2 separate regions of the Homo sapiens genome follow, and region 2 is linked to region 1. Evidence: fine-mapped expression QTL. A gene starts in region 1. The other region holds a variant in brackets. All regions are shown on one strand. Distances are between the middles of the regions.

The links. PIP is the estimated chance that this variant, and not a neighbour inherited with it, causes the effect.
Region 2: its variant is the best candidate, but not a certain one, in a credible set for the expression of MIR762HG in thyroid (GTEx, PIP 0.77).

What each region holds. Positions count from the first base shown.
Region 1 is chr16:30,870,844-30,880,835 of GRCh38, forward strand. MIR762HG (MIR762 host gene) reads left to right here and starts at 4,617. Exons shown (of 3, transcript NR_110942.1): 1 at 4,617-4,643; 2 at 5,187-5,275. MIR4519 (microRNA 4519) reads right to left here and starts at 4,480; the gene lies at 4,423-4,480. It also overlaps a transcript of BCL7C not described here. RefSeq lists enhancers at 3,145-3,900, 3,901-4,655, 4,190-4,449, 4,656-5,410, 4,720-4,929 and 1 more and a silencer at 5,330-5,389.
Region 2 is chr16:30,574,474-30,584,465 of GRCh38, forward strand. ZNF785 (zinc finger protein 785) reads right to left here. Exons shown (of 3, transcript NM_152458.7): 3 at 6,183-8,970. The coding sequence ends at 8,087. It also overlaps a transcript of ZNF688 not described here. Among named protein-coding and RNA genes, the nearest start is that of ZNF785, 6.2 kb to the right of the region's middle. The variant A/C (reference allele first, on the strand shown) is at 4,666.

The DNA.
Region 1 (9,992 bases):
TCAGGGATGGGCACCTGGGTTCCAATCCTTGTTGCTCCATTCACTAGCTGTGTGCCCCTGGGCAAGTCACTTCACTGTCCTAGAATTCAGTTGACTTATCTGTAATATTGGAAGAATAGCGCCTGGGAAGTAGCGAGGACCAGATAAATTGTAAATGTACCCAGCCCAGTGCTGACACATAGTAACTCGGTGGCAGTTGCAGGCCAGGGGAACAGTTGTTAACTCATCACCAGAGGGGCCAGAACTGGGCAGGGGGAAAGGTGTCCTGAGTGGGAGATCCAGGTCTTGGGGTGCTCCGACTCTGGATCTCTGGGAAGAGGAATCCCCAACTCTGCTTCCCAAGTAGCTAGAAACTGACTTAGGAGGGGGACAGCGTATAGGGAACACTGAAATGCTGCTGTAAACGATGGCTGGAGTTAGCCTCATCTGAACTCTGTGTTTGAGGGTACACACTCTGAAGTCAGATGATACGGATTCAGATCTGCCTCTATTATATACTATGGGACAAGTGACTTCACTTCTCTGTGCCTTGCTTTTCTCATCTGTCAAGTGGAAATAATAAGAGTACTTACCTCACTAAGTTATTGAAATGATTTTGTAAGATTATGCATGTAGTGCTCTGAGAATATTCACCTAGCTCAATGTTAGCTTTTTTTTTTGAGACTGAGTCTCACTCTGTCGCCCAGGCTGGAGTGCAGTGGTACGATCTTGGCTCACTGCAACCTTCACCTCCCGGGTTCCAGTGATTCTCCTGCCTCAGCCTCCTGAGTAGCTGGGACTACAGGCAGGCACCACCACACCTGGCTTATTTTTGCATTTTTAGTAGAGACAGGGTTTCACCATGTTGGCCAGGCTGGTCTTGAACTCCTGACCTCAGGTGATCTGCCTACCTTGGCCTCCCAAAGTGCTGGGATTACAGGTGTGAGCCATCGCACCCGGCCACTATTTTGTTTTATAGGGTCCAGAATTACTCAGATAATTGCTTGGATTTAGGGTTGAGATTCTCACCTAAGTTGAGTGAGACCAGATGGACCCTAATCATCCTGTCTGGAGGTGCTTAGCCTCAAGTTTGGGTCAAGTTGAATTGCACAGCTGTGAGAGAGGTGGACTGAGTTAAATCGGTGTTGAACAAGAGCATGGCAGGACCTGGTTGTTTTGCTTATCTTCTATATGCTATAATTTCAAAAATTAAGGTATAAAATTAAGCTCTCTCTGGAAAAGGATATTCGTGTTATTGGAATGGGTTCTGAATTTAATGGTCAGTTAAAGCCCACAGGGAAAGAATAAGATGAGGAATAGGGTCTGAGGGAGGAGGCAGAGTTCTGATGAAGATGATGGCAAGAGGTGGGAAAGTCCTTGGCCAGGAAGGGGAGAGAGGGAGTCATGGTGAATACCCTGCGGCTGTGCTCCAGGAAAGTGGTCAGTCCTGAGAGCAGGTGGCGGCCTGACATTCCAGAAACATGGGACCCTATATGCAGGTAATCCCAGCCAGCCTAGAGACTCTGGTGCCCACAGGTGGAATAGGGCAGAAGTCATGGAGTGTAAGGGACCCCTGTGGGCTTGGAAAGTGATGCCAGTAGCAACCAAGATGAACTAGAGATCAGACTCTCCTCACCACCAGCACGCACGTTCACACACACCCTCATTCTCCAGGCAGGCAGCACTTCCTGAACTGCGGTGTGCCGTTGAGAGAGGGTGAAAGCCCCAGTGGCAAATGAGATGGGATTTCTGTTTAGAGTCATAAATTGTTTCATAGAAATATTTGAATATTTGTTAGAAGAGGTACCCAAAACAACTCAGGCAGCCTGGTGCCCGCATGTTTTGGGTAGTGGCCAGAGTCCCCTCTCAAGCCTGCTAGTCCATTCCCCACCCCCTATCCTACTTCCAGACTTGGTAAGTAGGTAGTTTTGGCAATCAGACAGACTTGGTTAAGCCTAGCTTCTGTCACTAGCTGTGTGACACTGGACAAGTAATTGTACCTGACTTCTCTGAACCTGTTTCTTCATCGGTAAAATCATGCACTTCTTTACAGGAGTTGTCAGGAAAATGCAATGAAAGAATAAGGTGAGGGTGGTTTTCAAATGATGACCTGGAGAACCGTAAATCAGACAATCCAGTGTTTGCCAAACTTCATTCACATCCCATCTTCCCAACCTCTGACAAATTTGTGGACCACCTCTACTTCTGTTTACTTAATCTTGTTCTTTAAAAATTATCAACTCACGTTTTGATGGAACTAGGTGTATTCAAAAGGAAACTTTAACCACTGCCATAAATGAGAAATTATCATGTACCCAAGAGTGGTAAAAATAGATACAATAAAACCAAAACAATGCTGTTCAGTTCTAGCTGGCTATGATTATAGGCCAGGGCTCTGAGCTCAAGGAGTTGATTTTGTTAAAAACAACAACAAAAAGGTTATCTCAGTCAAAAAAGGCCACATAAAGCCCTAATATGAAATGTCCAAAATAATCAACTCTATAGAGACAGAAAGTAGATTTGCAGTAGTCTAGAGCTGTAGTGGGAGGAAGGCTTGGGAGTTACTGTTAATGGGTATGGTTTCTTTTAGGGGTAATGAAAATGTTCTAAAATTGACTGTGGTGATATTTGCAAAACTGTGAAGATACTAAGAATCATTGAACTGTACACTTTAAATGGGTGAGTTGTATGGTGTGTGAGTCATCTCTCTCAGTAAAGGTGTTATTTTAAAATACGTATATATGGGCCGGGTGTGATGGCTCAGACCTGTAATCCCAGCATTTGGGGAGGCTGGGGCAGGCAGATCACTTTTGAGCTCAGGAGTTCCAGACCAGCCTGGGCAACATAGCAAAACCCTGTCTCTACTAAAAATACAAAAATTACCCAGGCATGGTAGCAGCAGCCTGTAATCCCAGCTACTCGGGAGGCTGAGGCAGGAGAATCGCTTGAACCTGGGAGGCGGAGGTTGCAGTGAGCCGAGATCGAGTCCCTGCACTCCATCCTGGGCCACAGAGCTACACTGTCTCAAAAAAAAAAAAAATTGTACAGATATATATACACACACACACATATAGAAAAATTATATAATTTTTCCTCCTCTCTCTATATACATATATATATAGATATATGTATACACACACACACACACACACAGAGGAAGGTATAGGTGTCAAACCTTTTTTTTTTTTTTTGAGACAGATTCTTGCTCTGTGGCCCAGGCTAGAGTGCAGTGGTGCGATCTTGGCTCACTGCAACCTCTGCCTCCCGGGTTCAAGGGATTCTCCTGCCTCAGCCTCCCGAGTAGCTGGGATTACAGGTGTGTGGCACCACATCCGTCTAATTTTTGTATTTTTAGTAGAGACAGGGTTTCACCATGTTGGCCAGACTGGTCTTGAACTCCTGACCTCAAGTGATCTGCCCGACGTGGCCTCTTAAAGTGCTAGGATTACAGGCGTGAGCCACTGAGCCCAGCCTAAATTCAATTATTAAACTCCTTGAGTTAATTAAAGGGTAGCCAGGTGCGGTGGCTCATGCCTGTAATCCCAGCACTTTCAGAGGCCGAGGCAGGAGGATCGCTTGAGCCCAGGAGTTCCAGACCAGCCTGGACAACATAGCGAGATCCTGACTCTACAAAAAACAGAAAAATTAGCCGGGCGTGGTGGCGCGTGTTTGTAGTCCCAGACACTCCTGAGGTTGAGGTGGGAGGATCACCTGAGCCCTCGGGAGGTCGAAGCTGCAGTGAGCGGAGATCGCACCGCTGCACTCCAGCCTGGGGGACAGTGAGGCGGTCTCAAAACAAAACAAAAACAAAAGGGGAGGGCGGGGGGAAGACTTAAAGACCCCTGAGCCAGGGCCATTATTATTTAACTTGGTCGGGTCTCTGAACCATTCGGAGGAAGCTTGGGTTTCTATCCTTCCCGACTGAGCCACAGACCTGAGTCTTGACTCCGGATAAATCACCCCAGACTGTTTTTCTGTCTGTGACACGGGAACGGCAGCTTCTGCCTCGCGAGGTGGAGAGAGAATGAGAAGCGCCGTGTGTGGCGCGCCTGACACGGTCAGCTCGCGGGTGGAGGCCCGGAGCAGAACGCCCTCGGGCGCCCGCTCTTGCAGCCGCACTGGAGACCGGGAATGGCTCCGGCCACGCCTCTGCCGACTGCGGCAACGCGAGGGACAGCTGGTCTCCGGGGTTGCAGCGTAACGCCCTCCTTCCCGGCCTCATCTTTCCTGACTGCATAACGGGCATACAGTGGGTTCCATGGCGCAAGGGAGCTGAAGAAGCCGCCCGCCCCCAGCTCGCCCGGGATCCTCACGCCCCTATAACGCCCCGAGGGGCCACGATGCTGCCCACAGCCCAGATCGCGAGTGCGGACCCTGCGGGAGGGTCTGGCCTAGATGCGAGTTTCCCGCCGCAGACCAGGCGAGGCCACGCGACATATCCCCTACCCGCTTACTGCAGGCCGCAGACGGAGACAGTGCAGCCCTGCGCACTGCTGAGGTTGCCCGAGGTCTCAGCCTCGGCGGGTCGGGAACACGCGGCGCGCGCCCGCGCCCCAACCGGAAGTCCGCCACCGGCCGCTCTAGCACGCGCAGGGCTGCGTCTGTGGCCTTAACCCTTCCCAAGGCTGCGCCGCCGGCCTTTGTCTCCGCGGAGCGTCACAAAGGTTGGAAGGGTCGCGGGGCCTCTGGGTGCCGAGCTGCAGATGCCTCCACTGCGAGCACAGCCCTGAGACAAGGGCCCAGGCGCCCAGCGGGGCTGGTTTCACTCAGTCCAGCCGCACCTACCCGTGCCCTCACCAGATCTTAAGATACAGACATTAAAACCTCCACCGGGCCGCGGCACAGGACAGCAGTTTTACTTTCTGTTTTTGGCATTGCATTGCCTCCATTTCCTAGAGTGCACGTAATAAATACCGCTGGTGATTCCAAAATATAAAGGTTGAAAATATTTACTTTACAAAAATTTGGTTCCCATACTGCTTTTAAGGCCATCCTCTGCACTTGGTTCCCGCTGCTCCTGATGTGGTTGAAAGATGGATGACCCCAAAGACGAGGAAAAGATTATTGGCTCCATTTTTTAGATGCGGCAGCCAGCTAAGGTCTAGACAGGGGAAGGGACTTGCCCCAAATCACAGTTAGAGCAAATCAGTCTGAATCAGGAATAACTCCATTCCTATCCCGCATCCTGCCCTTTCACTACGCCACAGCTGCCTGGCTGCCTGGAGGAACAAAGGAGGGCCGGGCAAGAACGCCATTACCAACTGCAAATCCACAGGCAAATGCAAGAGGACAGAAAGTAAGTTCTTGGGCTCTGCCCTTGTGCCGTACCCGGAGGGGTTCTGGGGTCACCAGCCAGGTGCATCCCTGCCTTCACAGCCATGCACAGCGACACCCAGTTAACTAATGGGGGGGATTATGCCACTTGCTGGGTATGCCTGTGCCACCAGTGCACTCACTCTGTGCCTGGGGAAATAACCACGGATGAATCTGGGGATCCCCTGGGCCCACTGTGAAATGGACCTGAGCTAAAACTCCATTGATCACAGGACCTCAGGGATCTTTTGGGTCTCGAGAACAGAATTGGATGCTACAGGAGAAATGTAACCAGAAAAGGATTAGGATTTTGCCAGTAGAGAAAGGGAGATGTGCTTGCTTTCATTCATTTATCATTAATGAGCACCTACTGTATGCCAGGCACCACACTAGGCCCTAGGAAGACAGAGATTATGAGACAGATGTGGCCTTATTCTAGCAGGGGAAGTGAGATGAAGGAGGTGAGAAAGAGGAAGTATAGTGACTAACCAGGGACCTGACCTAGTTTGAAGGTCAGGGAACCTTGGAGGAGGTGAAATCAAACCCAAAGCCTGAGATAAGAGAGAGAAGGGGAGGGTGGAGGGAAGGAAAGGGCTTCACAGACAGAGGGAACGGGAGTGCTAACAGCCTGGCCAGCTTCCTTGTGGTAGAAGTTCTATGCATGAGTTGGAAGAAAGCTTGGGGAAAGGGGCAGGAGAGGTGGGCAGGGGCCAAATCCAGCAGGGGCTTTTCTACCATAAGGAACTTGGTGGGAGAACTCCATGGGCAAAAACAGGTGTGGAAGGGACCAAGAAGCCCATGTGGCTGGAGGGCAGGACATGAGATGAAGATGACTAGAGCAGGGAGTGAGGAGGTGGAGAAGGTGAGCAGAGGCCAAGGCTGGGAGGCCTGAAATGCCTGGCCGCAAAACTCAGCCATTAGCCTGGAGGCCATGCAAGTGAACAGCAAGGAGGAGAGTGGAACACCAGGGAGCGGTAGGGATTGCGGGGACTGAAGGGCAGAGACTCCGCCCCCAGGGCAGTCAGTGTTCTGCACCCCCTACCCCCCTACCCCACCAACCTCCGCCCCATGACCACTCCAGGAGGCAAACTCAGTATCTCAGAATATCTGCTTTCAAGGGTAGCTGGAGTCCAGATTTCTTTTTTTATTTTTGGTAGAGACAGGATCTTGCTCTGTCGCGCAGGTTGAAGGGTAGCAACACATAGCTCACTGTAGCCTCAACTCCTAGGCTCAAGCAGTCCTCCTGCCTCAGCCTCCCAAAGTGCTGGGGTTACAGTGTGAGGCACGTCACCCGGCCTGAGTCCAGATTTTTTTTTTTTTTTTGAGACGGAGTCTCGCTCTTTCACCAGGCCCGAGTGCAGTGGCACTATCTCGGCTCACTGCAAGCTCCGCCTCCTGGGTTCAGGCCATTCTCCTGCCTCAGCCTCCCGAGTAGCTGGGACTACAGGCACCCGCCACCGCGCCCAGCTAATTTGTTGTATTTTTAGTAGAGATGGGGTTTCACCGTGTTAGCCAGGATGGTCTCGATCTCCTGACCTCGTGATCCACCCGCCTCGGCCTCCCAAAGTGCTGGGATTACAGGCGTGAGCCACCGCGCCCAGCCTAGTCCAGATTTTTATATGAAATCACTTGATTTTAATGTTGCCAACATGTTCAACACCATGTAAGCCAAACAAATCACATTCACAGGCTCACAGCTCCAAGCTTTGCAGCATGTTAGCATCACCTGAGGAGCTTGTAAAAATCCCAGGGCCCTTGGCCGGGCGCAGTGGCTGATGCCTGTAATCTCAGCACTTTGGGAGGCCAAGGCGGGTGGATCACCTGAGGTCAGGAGTTCGAGACCAGCCTGGACAACATGGTGAAACCCCATCTCTACTAAAAATACAAAAATTAGCCGGGTGTGGTGGCAGGCACCTGTAATCCCAGCTACTTGGGAGGCTGAGGCACGAGAATGGCTTGAACCTGGGAGGCGGAGGTTGCAGTGACCCAAGATCATGCCACTGCACTGCAGCCTGGGCGATAGAGCTAAACTCAAGACTCAAAAAAACAAAACAAAACAAAAAATCCCAGGGCCCAGGTTGCACATGATACCAATGTAAAATGTCTGGGGTGGGGCCGGGTGTGGTGGCTCATGCCTGTAATCCCAGCACTTTGGGAGGCCGAGGGAGACGGATCACAAGGTCAGGAGATTGAGACCATCCTGGCTAACACGGTGAAACCCCGTCTCTACTAAAAATAAAAAAATTTAAAAAAATTAGCTGGGTGTGGTGGCACGCGCCTGTAGTCCCAGCTACTCGGGAGGCTGAGGCAGGAGAATCACTTGAACCCAGGAGGCAGAGGTTGCAATGAGCCGAGATCGTGCCACTGCACTCCAGCCTGGGCGACAGAGCGAGACTCTATTTCAAAAAAAACAAAAATGTCTGGGGTGGCTGGGCGTGGTGGCTCACGCCTGTAATCCTGGCACTCTGGGAGGCCGAGGTGGGTGGATCACGAGGTCAGGAGCTTGAGACCAGCCTGACCAACATGGTGAAACCCAGTCTCTACTAAAAATACAAAAATTAGCTGGGCGTGGTGGCACGCACCTGTAATCCCAGCTACTCAGGAGGCTGAGGCAGAAGAATCACTTGAACCCGGGAGGCAGAGGTTGCAGTGAGCTGAGATCGTGCCACTGCACTCCAGCCTGGGTGACAAAGCGAGACTCCGTCTCAAAAAAAAAAAAAAAAATGTCAAGGGTAGAAGGCAGCCATCAGAATATTTAAATGATTCCCCAGGTGATTCCAGTATGCACACTACCAGAGACTACGTGCTTTCAGTTGCCAGGCTCAGCCATGGGGAGCCATGGGAAGTTTTAGAACAGGAGAGGAGCCCAGTTTAGAGTTTAAGGAAAATCATTCTGTAGGAGGAACAGAATGTAATCTTGTGTGAAAAGGGTCCGGAAGCCCCAAGGGCAGTGGCAGGATCCTGCTAGGGTGATGGTGATCAGCCATCCCAGTTTGCTCAAGACTGGGGTGTCTCCTGGGACATGGAACCTGCAGTGCTAAAACCAAGAAAGTCCTGGGCAAACAGGGATGCTTGGTCATGCTAGATTCTCCTGATGTAGTTCTGTTTTCCCAGATTTTTGGGGAGACTGATGCCACAGACTTCGCATTCTAGAAATTCCTAAGAAAAGGCTGTCCATCTCCCTGTGGTGCATTCACCTGAGTCTCTGAGCCCTGGCAGGGCCCATCTCTTCTCCACCCAGCAGAGTGATCCTGGCCTATGGAATATAATTTAGCAGTAAAAAGGAACAAACTACTGATTCACACAATAATCCGGATGACCCTCAAGAATATTAGCCTGAGTAAAAGAAAACAGATGCAAAAGAGTTACATACTGCTTAATTCTATTTACATGAAGTTCCAGAACAGGTTCACCCAATCCGTTACTTTAAAACAATCAGGCCAGGTGTGGTGGCTCACGCCTGTAATCCCAGCACTTTGTGAGGCCAGGAGGATCCCTTGAGGCCAGGAGTTCCAGACCAGCCTAGGCAACACAGAGAGACTCCCCTTCTCTACAAAAAAAAAAAAAAAAAAAACTGGGCACGGTGGCTCACATCTGTAATCCCAGCACTTTGGGAGGCTGAGGCGGGCGGATCACGAGGTCAGGAGATCGAGACCATCCTGGCTAAAATGGTGAAACTCCATCTCTACTAAAAATACAAAAAAATTAGCTGGGCATGGTGGCAGGCACCTGTAGTCTCAGCTACTTGGGAGGCTGAGGCAGGAGAATTGCGTGAACCCGGGAGGCAGAGCTTTCAGTGAGCCAAGATCACGCCACTGCACTCCAGCCTGGGTGACAGAGCGTGATTCCGTCTCAAAAAAAAAAAAATGTTAAGTAGTTGGGCGCAGTAGCACATGCCTGTGGTCCCAGCTACTCGGGAAGCTTAGGTGGATCACTTGGGCCCAGGAGTTCAAGGCTGCAGTGAGCTATGATCTAAAACAAACAAACAAAAAAAAACACTTTACCCAGTTACTTGGGGGAGGACAGACATTGTGGCATCATTAAAGTTGTTTGAACAACAACAAAAAGGCTGTGTGCATGGCTCACACCTGTAATCCCAGCACTTTGGGAGGCAGAGGTAGGTGGATCGCTTGAGCCCAGGAGTTCAAGACCAGCCTGGGCAATATGGTGAGACCCCGTCTCTGCAAAAAATACAAAAAAAAATTAGTGAGCTGTGAACATGCCACTGCACTCCACACTGGACAGCAGATCAAGGCCCTGTCTTATTAAAAAAGTCAGAACAGGCTGGGCGCGGTGGCTCATGCCTGTAATCCCAGCACTTTGGGAGGCTGAGGTGAGCGGATCACGAGGTCGGGAGATTGAGACCATCCTGGCTAACATGGTGAAACCCCGTCTCTACTAAAAATACAAAAAAAAAAAAAAAAAGTCAGAACAGCGGTTGACTCTGGGGAGTTGGAGATGAGAAGGGGGCAACGGGAACTTTCTGGCAAGTGATAGTGATGTTTTGTATTTGAGAACAGTTTCCTTATGCAGATGTATGCATTTGTTTTGTTCTGGTTTTATTTTTATTTTTATTTTTTTTAGACAGGGTCTTGCTCTGTTGCCCAGGCTAGAGTGCAGTGGTACAATCATAGCTCACTGCAGTGTTGAACTTCTGGACTCAAGTGATCCTCTCACCTCAGCCTCCCAAGTAGCTGGAA
Region 2 (9,992 bases), 300 kb before region 1:
AGGCAGAGGTTGCAGTGAGCCAAGATCACACCATTGCACTCCAGCCTGTGTGACAGAGCAAGACTCCATCTAAAAAAAAAAAAAACAAACAAAACAAAAAATATATTGATACACAAAATTTTTACATATTTATGGAGTTCATGTGATATTTTGCTTTTCTTCATACATAGAATGTACAATAATCAAGTCAGGATATTTAAGGTATCAATCACTTTGAGTATTTAACATTTCTATGTGTTGGGAAAATTTCAAGTCCTCTCTTCTAGCTATGGAAATTTACAGTACTTTGTTAACTACAGTCACCCTACTCTGCTATTGAACATTACAAGTTATCCCTTCTTCCTAAGTGTATGTTTGTACCCATTACCCAACTTCTCTTCATCCACCTCTCCCACCCACGTACACCCTTCCAATCTCTGGTATCATTCTACTCTCTACCTCCATGAGATCAACTTTTCTAGCTCCCACATGTAAGTGAGGACATGTGATATTTGCCTTTCTGTGTCTGGCTTATTCACTTAACATAATGACCTCCAGTTCCATCCATGCTGTAAACATGATTTCATTTTTTATGGCTTAAGTCCACTGTGTATATATATCATATTTTCTTTATTCATTTGTCCCCTGATCAACACTTAGGTTGATTCCATATCTTTGCTATTGTAAACACGGCTCTACAGTAAACACGGAGATGCAGGTTATCTTTTTTATATACTGATTTCTTTTCCTTTGGATAAATTCCAGGTAGTGGGATTGCTGGATCACATGGTAGTTCTTTTTTTTTTTTTTTGAGACGGAGTTTTGCTTTTGTTGTCTAGGTTGGAGTGCAATGCCCTGGTCTCGGCTCATTGCAGCCTCTGCCTCCCAGGTTCAAGTGATTTTCCTGCCTCAGCCTCACAAGTAGCTGGGATTACAGGCACCCTCCATCACACCCAGCTAAATTTTGTATTTTTAGTAGAGAAGGGGTTTTGCCATGTTGGCTAGGCTATTGTGAACTTCTGACCTCTGGTGATCGACCAGCCTTGGCCTCCCAAAGTGCTGGGATTACAGGTGTGAGTCACCATGCCCAGCCCACATGGTAGTTCTGTTTTTGTTTTTTTCAGACATCTCCATATTGTTTTCAGTAGTGGCTGTACTAACTTACGTTCCCACCAACAGTGTGTAGGAGTTCCCTTCTCTTTTTTTTTCTTTTTTTTTTTGGAGAAGGAGTTTCACTCTTGTTGCCCAGGCTGGAGTGCAATGGCACAATCTTGGCTCACCACAACTTCTGCCACCAGGGTTCAAGCGATTCTCCTGCCTCAGCCTCCCAAGTAGCTGGGATTACAGGCGCGTGCCACCACTCCTGACTAATTTTGCATTTTTAGTAGAGATGAGGTTTCTCCATGTTGGTCAGGCTGATCTTGAACTCCCGACCTCAGGTGATCCACCCACCTCAGCCTCCCAAAATGCTGGGATTACAGGCGTGAGCCACTGCGCCCAGTCAAGAGTTGCCTTCTCTTAGCATCCTTGCCAATACCTGTCATGTTTTGTCTTCTTAATAACAGCCATTCTAACTAAGGTACGATAATATCTCATTGTGTGCTTTTTTGTTTTTGAGTCAGTCTCGCTCTGCAGCCTAGGCTGGAGTGCAGTGGCGCAACCTCAGCTCACTGCAACCTCCCCCTCCTGGGTTCAACCGATTCTCCTGCCTCAGCCTCCTGAGTAGCTGGGATTACATACGTGCACCACCATGCCCAGCTAATTTTTTTGTTTGTTTGAGATGGAGTCTCGCTCTGTTGCCCAGGCTGGAGTGCAGTGGCGCGATCTTGGCTCACTGCAAGCTCCGCTTCCCGGGCTAACGCCATTCTCCCGCCTCAGCCTCTGGAGTAGCTGGCACTACAGGTGCCCGCCACCACGCCGGCTAATTTTTTGTATTTTTAGAAGAGATGGGGTTTCATTGTGTTAGCCAGGATGATCTCGATCTCCTGACCTCATGATCCACCCACCTCGGCCTCCCAAAGTGCTGGGATTACAGGCGTGAGCCACCGCGCCCAGCCACCCAGCTAATTTTTGTATTTTTAGTAGAGATGGAGTTTCACCATGTTGGGAAGGCTGATCTCAAACTCCTGACCTCAGGTGATCCGCCCACCTCGGCCTCCTAAGCTGCTGGGATTATAGGCGTGAGCCACCAGGCCGGCTTCATTGTAGTTCTGATTTGCATTTCCCTGATGATTAGTGGTGTTGAGCATTTTTTCATGTACCTGTTGACCATCTGCATGTTTTATTTTGATTCTCCTTCTATTATGATTATTATTATTAATTATCATTATTATTGAGACAGGTTCTCACTCTGTCACACAGGCTGGAGTGCAGTGGTATGATCACAGCTCACTGCAGCCTCAACCTCCCTGGGTTCAGGTGATCCTCCCACCTCAGCCTTCAAGTCGTTGGAACTAGAAGTGTGCAACACCATGCCTGGCTAATTTTCGTTTTTGTAGAGATGGGGTCTCTCCATGATACCCAGGCTGGTCTGGAACTCCTGGGCTCAAGTGATCCTCCCACCTCAGCCTCCCAAAGTGCTAGGATTACAGGTGTGGACCACCATGCCCAGCCTATTATTGTCATTTTGAAACAGAGTCTCACTCTGTCACCCAGGTTGGGGTGCAGTGGCAAGATCAAAGCTCACTGCAGCCTGGAACTCTTGGGCTCAAGTGATCTATGCTCCCACTTCCACCTCCTGAGTAGCTAAGACTACAGGTGAGTGGCTATTTGGATTCTCCTTTTAAACAGAGTAGCAACTTGAACCAAAAATACTTTTGTTTCTTCAGATCCTATGTTGTAAATCACTTCTCTTTGAACTAAGTATGCAGAAGACTTAAGAAGATGAAGCTGAACAATAAAAATATTAACTAAACAGATTGAAAGAAACTTTTTTTTTTTTTTTTTTAGATGGAGTCTCGCTCTGTCGCCAGGCTGGAGTGCAGTAGTGGGATCTTGGCTCACTGCAACCTCCAACTCCCTGGTTCAAGCGATTCTCTTGCCTCAGCCTCCTGAGTAGCTGGGATTACAGGCACGCATCACCACACCCAGTTTTTGTATTTTTAGCAGAGACAGGGTTTCACCATGTTGGCCAGGATGCTCTTGATCTCCTGACCTCGTGATCCGCCTGCCTTGGCCTCCCAAAGTGCTGGAATTACAGACATGAGCCACTGCACACTGTACCCGGCCTGTGGTTTTTTTTTTTTTTTAAGACAGAGTCTCACTCTGTGGCCAAGGCTGGAGTGCAGTGGTACAATCTCGGCTCACTGCAACCTCTGCCTCCCGAGTTCAAGCAATTCTCGTGCCTCAGCCTCCCAAGTAGCTGAAAACAGCACAACCTGCTAATTTTTGTATTTTTAGTAGAGATGGGGTTTTGCCATGTTGGCCAGGCTGGTCTCAAACTCCTGGCTTCAAGTGATCCACCGTCCTCGGCCTCCCAAAGTGCTGGGATTACAGGTATGAGCCATAGCGCCAGGCCTGAAACAAACTTTCAAGTAAGACTAAAACTGTTCCGTGTAGCTGATGAGTTGTTTTTCCTGCCACTCATTATAAAAATACAAAAATTGGCCGGGCACAGTGGCTAACACCTGTAATCCTACCACTTTGGGAGGCTCAGATAGACAGATCACTTGAGCCCATGAGTTCAAGACCAGCCTGGGCAAAACCCCATCTGTACAAAAAATACAAAAATTAGCTGGGCATAGTGGCATATGCCTGTAGTCCCAGTTACTCAAGAGGCTGAGATGAGAACGAGAAACACCTGAGCCCAGGAGGTCGAGGCTGCAGTGAGCCGTGACTGTGCCACTGCATTCCAGCCTAGGCTATAGTGAGACCCTGTCTCAAGAAATAACAAGAACAACAAAATGCTCTTGCTTTCAAATTATTTTATTGCCCATCAAATTGTAAATGTTTCTTCAAGACTCTTGATCAGATAATTATGAGAAGTCACACAACATACAGGAGATGACTGGGCTTCAATCGACTTTACTTGTCAATAACAGAGTACAACTGAACTTTAAGTGGGAGCTGAATTTCTTTCTTTCTTTTTTGAAACAGAGTTCCACTCTTGTTGCCCAGGCTGGAGTGCAATGGCACGATCTTGGCTCACTGCAACCTCCGCCTCCTGGGGTCAAACGATTCTCCTGCCTCAGCCTCCCGAGTAGCTGTGATTACAGGCATGTGCCACCATGCCTGGCTAATTTTGTATTTCTTTTTTTTTAGTAGAGACAGGGTTTCTCCATGTTCGTCAGGCTGGTCTCAAACTCCTGACCTCAGGTGATCTGCCCACCTTGGCCTACCAAAGTGCTGGGATTACAGGTGTGAGCCACTGCGCCTGGCTCTTTTTTTTTTTTAATAGTGTCTTGCTGTTACTCAGACTGAAGTGGCGCCATCATAGCTCACTATAGCCTCAAACTCCTGGGCTCAAGCTATCCTCCTTCTTCACCCTCCCCCACCATGCTCGGCTAATTTTTAAAATTTTTAGTAGAAATGAGGTCTTGCTGTTTTCCAGGCTCGTCTCAAACTCCCAATCTCATGCAATCCTCCTGCCTCAGCCTCCCAAAGTGCTGGGATTACAGGTGTGAGCCACTGTACCCAGCTGAGAGCTTAAGTTTCTTGCATAAAACTCAGCTGTATGCTGAAGTGTTT[A/C]GAAGTGAAATGTAATGATGTCTGCAACTTACTTTGAAATACATTAATAAAATGGATAAATGAATGGATAGAGGGATGGATAGGCAGATTGACATGTGTAAAACAAATAGAGAAAAATGTTATTTGTAGAATCTAGGTGATGCTAAAGGCCACACAGCCAGTGGGGACTGAGCCAAGCTAGGAATCCAGGTCCACCAATTCAGGAGAGGCTATGTGGTGAAGTAAAGATAACACCCCGTTCCCAGTTTTTGTATCTGTTTTTGTTTTGAGACAGAGTCCTGCTTTGTAGCCCAGGCTGGAGTGCAATGGAGCCATCTCAGCTTACTGCAACCTCTGTCTCCCAGGCTCAAGTGATCCTCTTGCCTTAGCCTCCTGAGTAGCTGGGACTACAGGCATGTGCCACCACGCCTGGCTAATTTTTTGGTAGAGATGGGGTTTCACTATATTGCCCAGCTGGTCTCAAACTCCTGACCTCAAGTGATTAACCAGCCTCAGCCTCCCACAGTGCTGGGATCACAGGTGTGAGCCACCGTGCCCGGCACCAGTTCCCATTAATTATCTTGGAACCCAAGGATTCAAAGAAGCAGTCTTTTCAAAGAGATATTTGAGTCACTGACCACCAGTCCTGGAATGCAGAAATGCTTAGTCCCACCTACCTCTTTTGTTCATTCCTTCAAAAGTTTCCTCTTCAAAAGTAGGGCTAGCAGATCTAAATGGGCCAGAAAGAACTCTCTTAACTGTTGTTTTTTGTTTTGTTTTGTTTTTTGAGACTGGAGTCTCACTTTGTCGCCCAGGCTGGAGTGCAGTGGCGCGATCTCAGCTCACTGCAAGCTCCGCCTCCCGGGTTCATGCCATTCTCCTGCCTCAGCCTCCCCAGTAGCTGGGACTACAGACGCCCGCCACCATGCCCGGATAATTTTTTGTATTTTTAGTAGAGATGGGGTTTCACTGTGTGAGCCAGGATGGTCTTGATCTCCTGACCTCGTGATCCACCCACCTCAGCCTCCCAAAGTGCTGGGATTACAGGCGTGAGCCACCACACCAGGCCTTTTTTTTTTTTTTTTTTTGAGATAGAGTCTTGCTCTGTTGCCCAGGCTGGAGTGCAGTGGCGCTATGTTGGCTCACTGCAACCTCCACCTCCTGGGTTCAAGCCATTCTTCTGCCTCAGCCTCCCAAGAAGCTGGGATTACAGGTGCACGCCACCAGGCCTGGCTAATTTTTTTTTTTTTTTTTTGAGACGGAGTCTCGCTCTGTCACCCAGGCTGGAGTGCAGTGGCGCAGTCTCGGCTCACTGCAAGCTCCGCCTCCCGGGTTCACGCCATTCTCCTGCCTCAGCCTCCCAAGTAGCTGGGACTACAGGCACCTGCCACCACTCCTGGCTAATTTTTTTGTATTTTTAGTACAGACGGGGTTTCACCATGTTAGCCAGGATGGTCTCGATCTTCTGACCTCGTGATCTGCCCGCCTCGGCTTCCCAAAGTGCTGGGATTACAGGTGTGAGCCAACGTGCCTGGCCGTTTTTTTTTTTTTTTTTGGTATTTTTAGTAGAGATGGGGTTTCACCATATTGGCCAGGCTGGTCTTGAACTCTTGACCTTAAGTGATCCACCCTCCTCAGCCTCCCAAACTGCTAGGATTACAGGCGTGAGCCACCGCGCCTGGCCTTCATAACTGTTGACATACAAGCATTACAGTAAAAATTAGACTGGAAAGACTATGCCTTGATTTCAACTTTAATCACAATTAATTTATTCTTTCTTTAAAAAAAAAATGTAATCCCAGAACTTTGGGAGGCCAAGTCGGGTGGATCACCTGAGGTCAGGAATTGGAGACCAGCCTGGCCAACATGGTGAAACCTGTCTCTAGTAAAAATGCAATTAGCCAGGCATGGTCGTGGGTGCCTGTAATCCCAGCTACTCAAGAGGCTGGGGCAGGAGAATCGCTTGAACCTAGGAGGCGGAGGTTGCAGTGAGCCAAGATCATGCCATTGCACTCTAGCCTGGGCAACAAGAGCGAAACTCCATCTCAAAAAAAAAAAGAGGCTGGGTGCAGTGGCTCACGCCTGTAATCCCAGCACTTTGGGAGGCCGAGGCGGGAGGATCACGAAGTCAGGAGATCGAGACCATCCTGGCTAACACGGTGAAACCCCCGTCTCTACTAAAAATACAAAATATTAGTTGGGCGTGGTGGCGGGTGCTTGTAATTCCAGCTACTCGGGAGACTGAAGCAGGAGAATGGTGTGAACCCAGGAGGTGGAGCTTGCAGTGAGCGTAGCTTGGGCCACTGCACTCCAGCCCAGGCAATAGAGACAGACTCTGTCTCAAAAAAAAAAAAAAAAAAAAGAATCCTCCGGCATTATATCTCCAGCTACTGTGGCCCAAGAATATATCTTTATCAAAAAATACAAAATCCAGGGAACATGCAAATATCTGAAGAAGAAAAAAACACTGCAATCACTAATGCATACAGTGAAGAGTTGGCCCAGTTCCAGAGTCCGCTATGTTTGATAGTTTGTGCACTTGCAGAATGAGAGTGGGGGGGGAGTTCCCCACCTGAGGCCACTGTCCTCTCTATGGCCACCTCTAGGTCTTCAAGACCAAGGAACACCTACACTCCAGGTGTCTCCTTGCCAGATGTTTCACCTGCATTGGTAAAAGGCAGAATCCTCGGCAGGGGTCGGTGGCTCACGCTTGTAATCCCAGCACTTTGAGACGCCGAGGCGGGTGGATCACGAGGTCAGGAATTCAAGACCAGCCTGGCCAAGATGGTGGAACCCCGTCTCTACTAACAGCACAAAAATTAGCTGGGCCTGGTGGCGCATGCCTGTAATCCCAGCTAATGGGAAGGCTGAGGCAGAGAATGGCTTGAACCCAGGAGGCAGAGGTTGCAGTGAGCCGAGATCACGCCACTGCACTCCAGCCTGGGCGACAGAGCATGACTCCATCTCAAAAAAAAGAAAAGAATCCTGGGATGAGCTCCGCCCCCCCCACCAGCCGAGGGACAGGCCTGAGGTATCCCCTCTATTCTGGGGGGTCCAGAGTGGGTGCAGGCTCCTTTAATAGGCACTGGAATGTAGGGGACCCCATCTCAGAGGAGTAGGAGAGATACAGGCCAAAAAGCAGAGAGCTACAAGGGAGAGAACAATCATGAAGGAAAAGCCAGTTAGGTGAATGGTTTTCAGTGAAGGATGGGACGTGAACACGGGGCCCTGTGTGCTGGAGCTTCAGAAAATGGGGTCAACCCCCAGGCACCTTTTCAGATTCCTGCCTCCTCCCCACAGCCCTCTGTGCCCCTACCTCTGCTTTTTACCTAAGGCAGAACTTTGTTTTCCTCAAACGCCCACTTCCTTTCCTTATCCCCCAAATACACAAACCTTGCCTCTTCCTCTCCAGGGAAACGCTGACCAGTTTGTGTGAACGCCATCACCCACACTCTTGAAATATATCTGGAAAGTGCCGGAAGTGAACTGGGGGATCCTTGCCTCCCAAAACAGGGATGGGCTCTGAACGCCCCACCACGGCCTGCTGCCACGCGCGCCTCTCGCTGCAGGAGCGGTGGATCCACCGATGGGCTTCCAGGGCGGTCTTGCGCTTGAAGCCTTTCCCACACTCCACGCAGGGGAAGGGCCGGCTGTCGGAGTGAATGCGCCGGTGACTGAGGAGGAGGGAAGAATAGGTGAAGCGGCGGCCGCAGTCAGGACAGGGGTAGGGCTTCTCGCCGGTGTGTATGCGCCTGTGGATGGCCAGCAGGGAGGTGTAGGCGAAACGGAGGCTGCAATCGGGGCAGCTGTAGGGCTTCTCGCCCGTGTGCTTGCGCTGGTGGATGGCCAGCAGGTAGGGGTAAGTGAAGCGACTCTTGCAGTCTGAGCACGCGTAAGGCTTCTCCCCGGTGTGAGCCCGCCTGTGGATAGCCAGGGAACCCCTCTGGCGGAAGCGGCGCCCGCAGTCGGGGCAGGGGTAGGGCTTCTCGCCGGTGTGGATGAACTGATGCTGGAGCAGGTACCTGCGCTGGGAGAAACGCGCCTGACACTGGCCGCAGGAGAAGGGCCGCTCCCCGGAGTGGACCCGCTGGTGGCTGGCCAGGAGGGAAGGGTAGCTGAAGTTGCGGCCACAGTCTGGGCAAGAGTGGGGCAGTCTTCGGGTCAGAGTGTCCTTGAGCCAGGGATTCATGGGGCTCTGCCTAGGGTTGCAGAACTCTGGGCAGGCGACGCTGGGCCACCACTCCTTGACAGCCACTTCATGCGCCACCTCTTTTTGTTTTGGACACTTCTTCAGCCTTTCCTTCTCCTCATTCCCATCCCTGGATCCTGAAACAGGGAAGATGATAAAATCAGAAACTCATCCCTGGATCCTGAGACAGGAAAGATGATAAAGTCAAAACCAGCATATTCCGGGACCATGTCCTGCCTTGGAAGGCAGCAGGAATGGTTCAGAATATGGCGCCCAGGGAGCACGGCTTAATGATAGGGGCCTCATGAAGCCCTGAAAGCCAGCCTGGAGTAAAAGCAAATGCCATGGTCTGCAGGTTAACACAAGAAGGCCCTGAGCACTGGAGATAATGAAAGAGGAGTCGGGCCGGGTGCCATGGCTCACACCTGTTATCCAAGCACTTCAGGAGGCTGAGGTGGGAGGATCGCTTGAGGCCAGAAATTCAAGGGACAGTGAGCTGTGATCGGGCCACTGCACTCCAGCCTGGGCAACTCTCTAATAAAAAAAAAAAAAAATGCTGGGCGTGGTGGCCCATGCCTGTAATCCCAGCACCACTCTGGGAGGCTGGGGTGGGCAGATCACCTGAGGTCAGGAGTTCGAGACCTGCCTGGCCAACATGGGGAAACCTTGTCTGTACTAAATTACAAAAATTAGCCAGGCGAGGTGGTGGGCGCCTGTAATCCCAGCTACTTGGGAGGCTGAGGCAGGAGAATCCCTGGAACTGGGGAGGTGGAGGTTGCAGTGAGCCAACCTCGTGCCACTGCACTCCAGCATGGGCGACACAGCAAGACTCAGTCTCAAAAAAATAAAAAAAGAAAAAGGAGTGAACAATATTGAACGCTTAACTCTGTGTCAGGCTTTGAGGACACAGTGATGGTCCCAGTCCTCATGGCACTTACCATCCTGAACCTGTTTATGATCCCTTTACAAAACAGCCATTCAATGACCTTCTTTGGTACCAGCTCAAATTCTTTTGGCACCTTTCCTCTCTGCTCTTACCATCACCAAAAAGTCTACACTTGCTGGTGGGGCACAGTGACTTACGCCTGTAATCCCAGCACTTTGGGAGGCAGAGGCAGGTGGATCACGAGATCAGGAGTTCAAGACCAGCCTGGCCAAG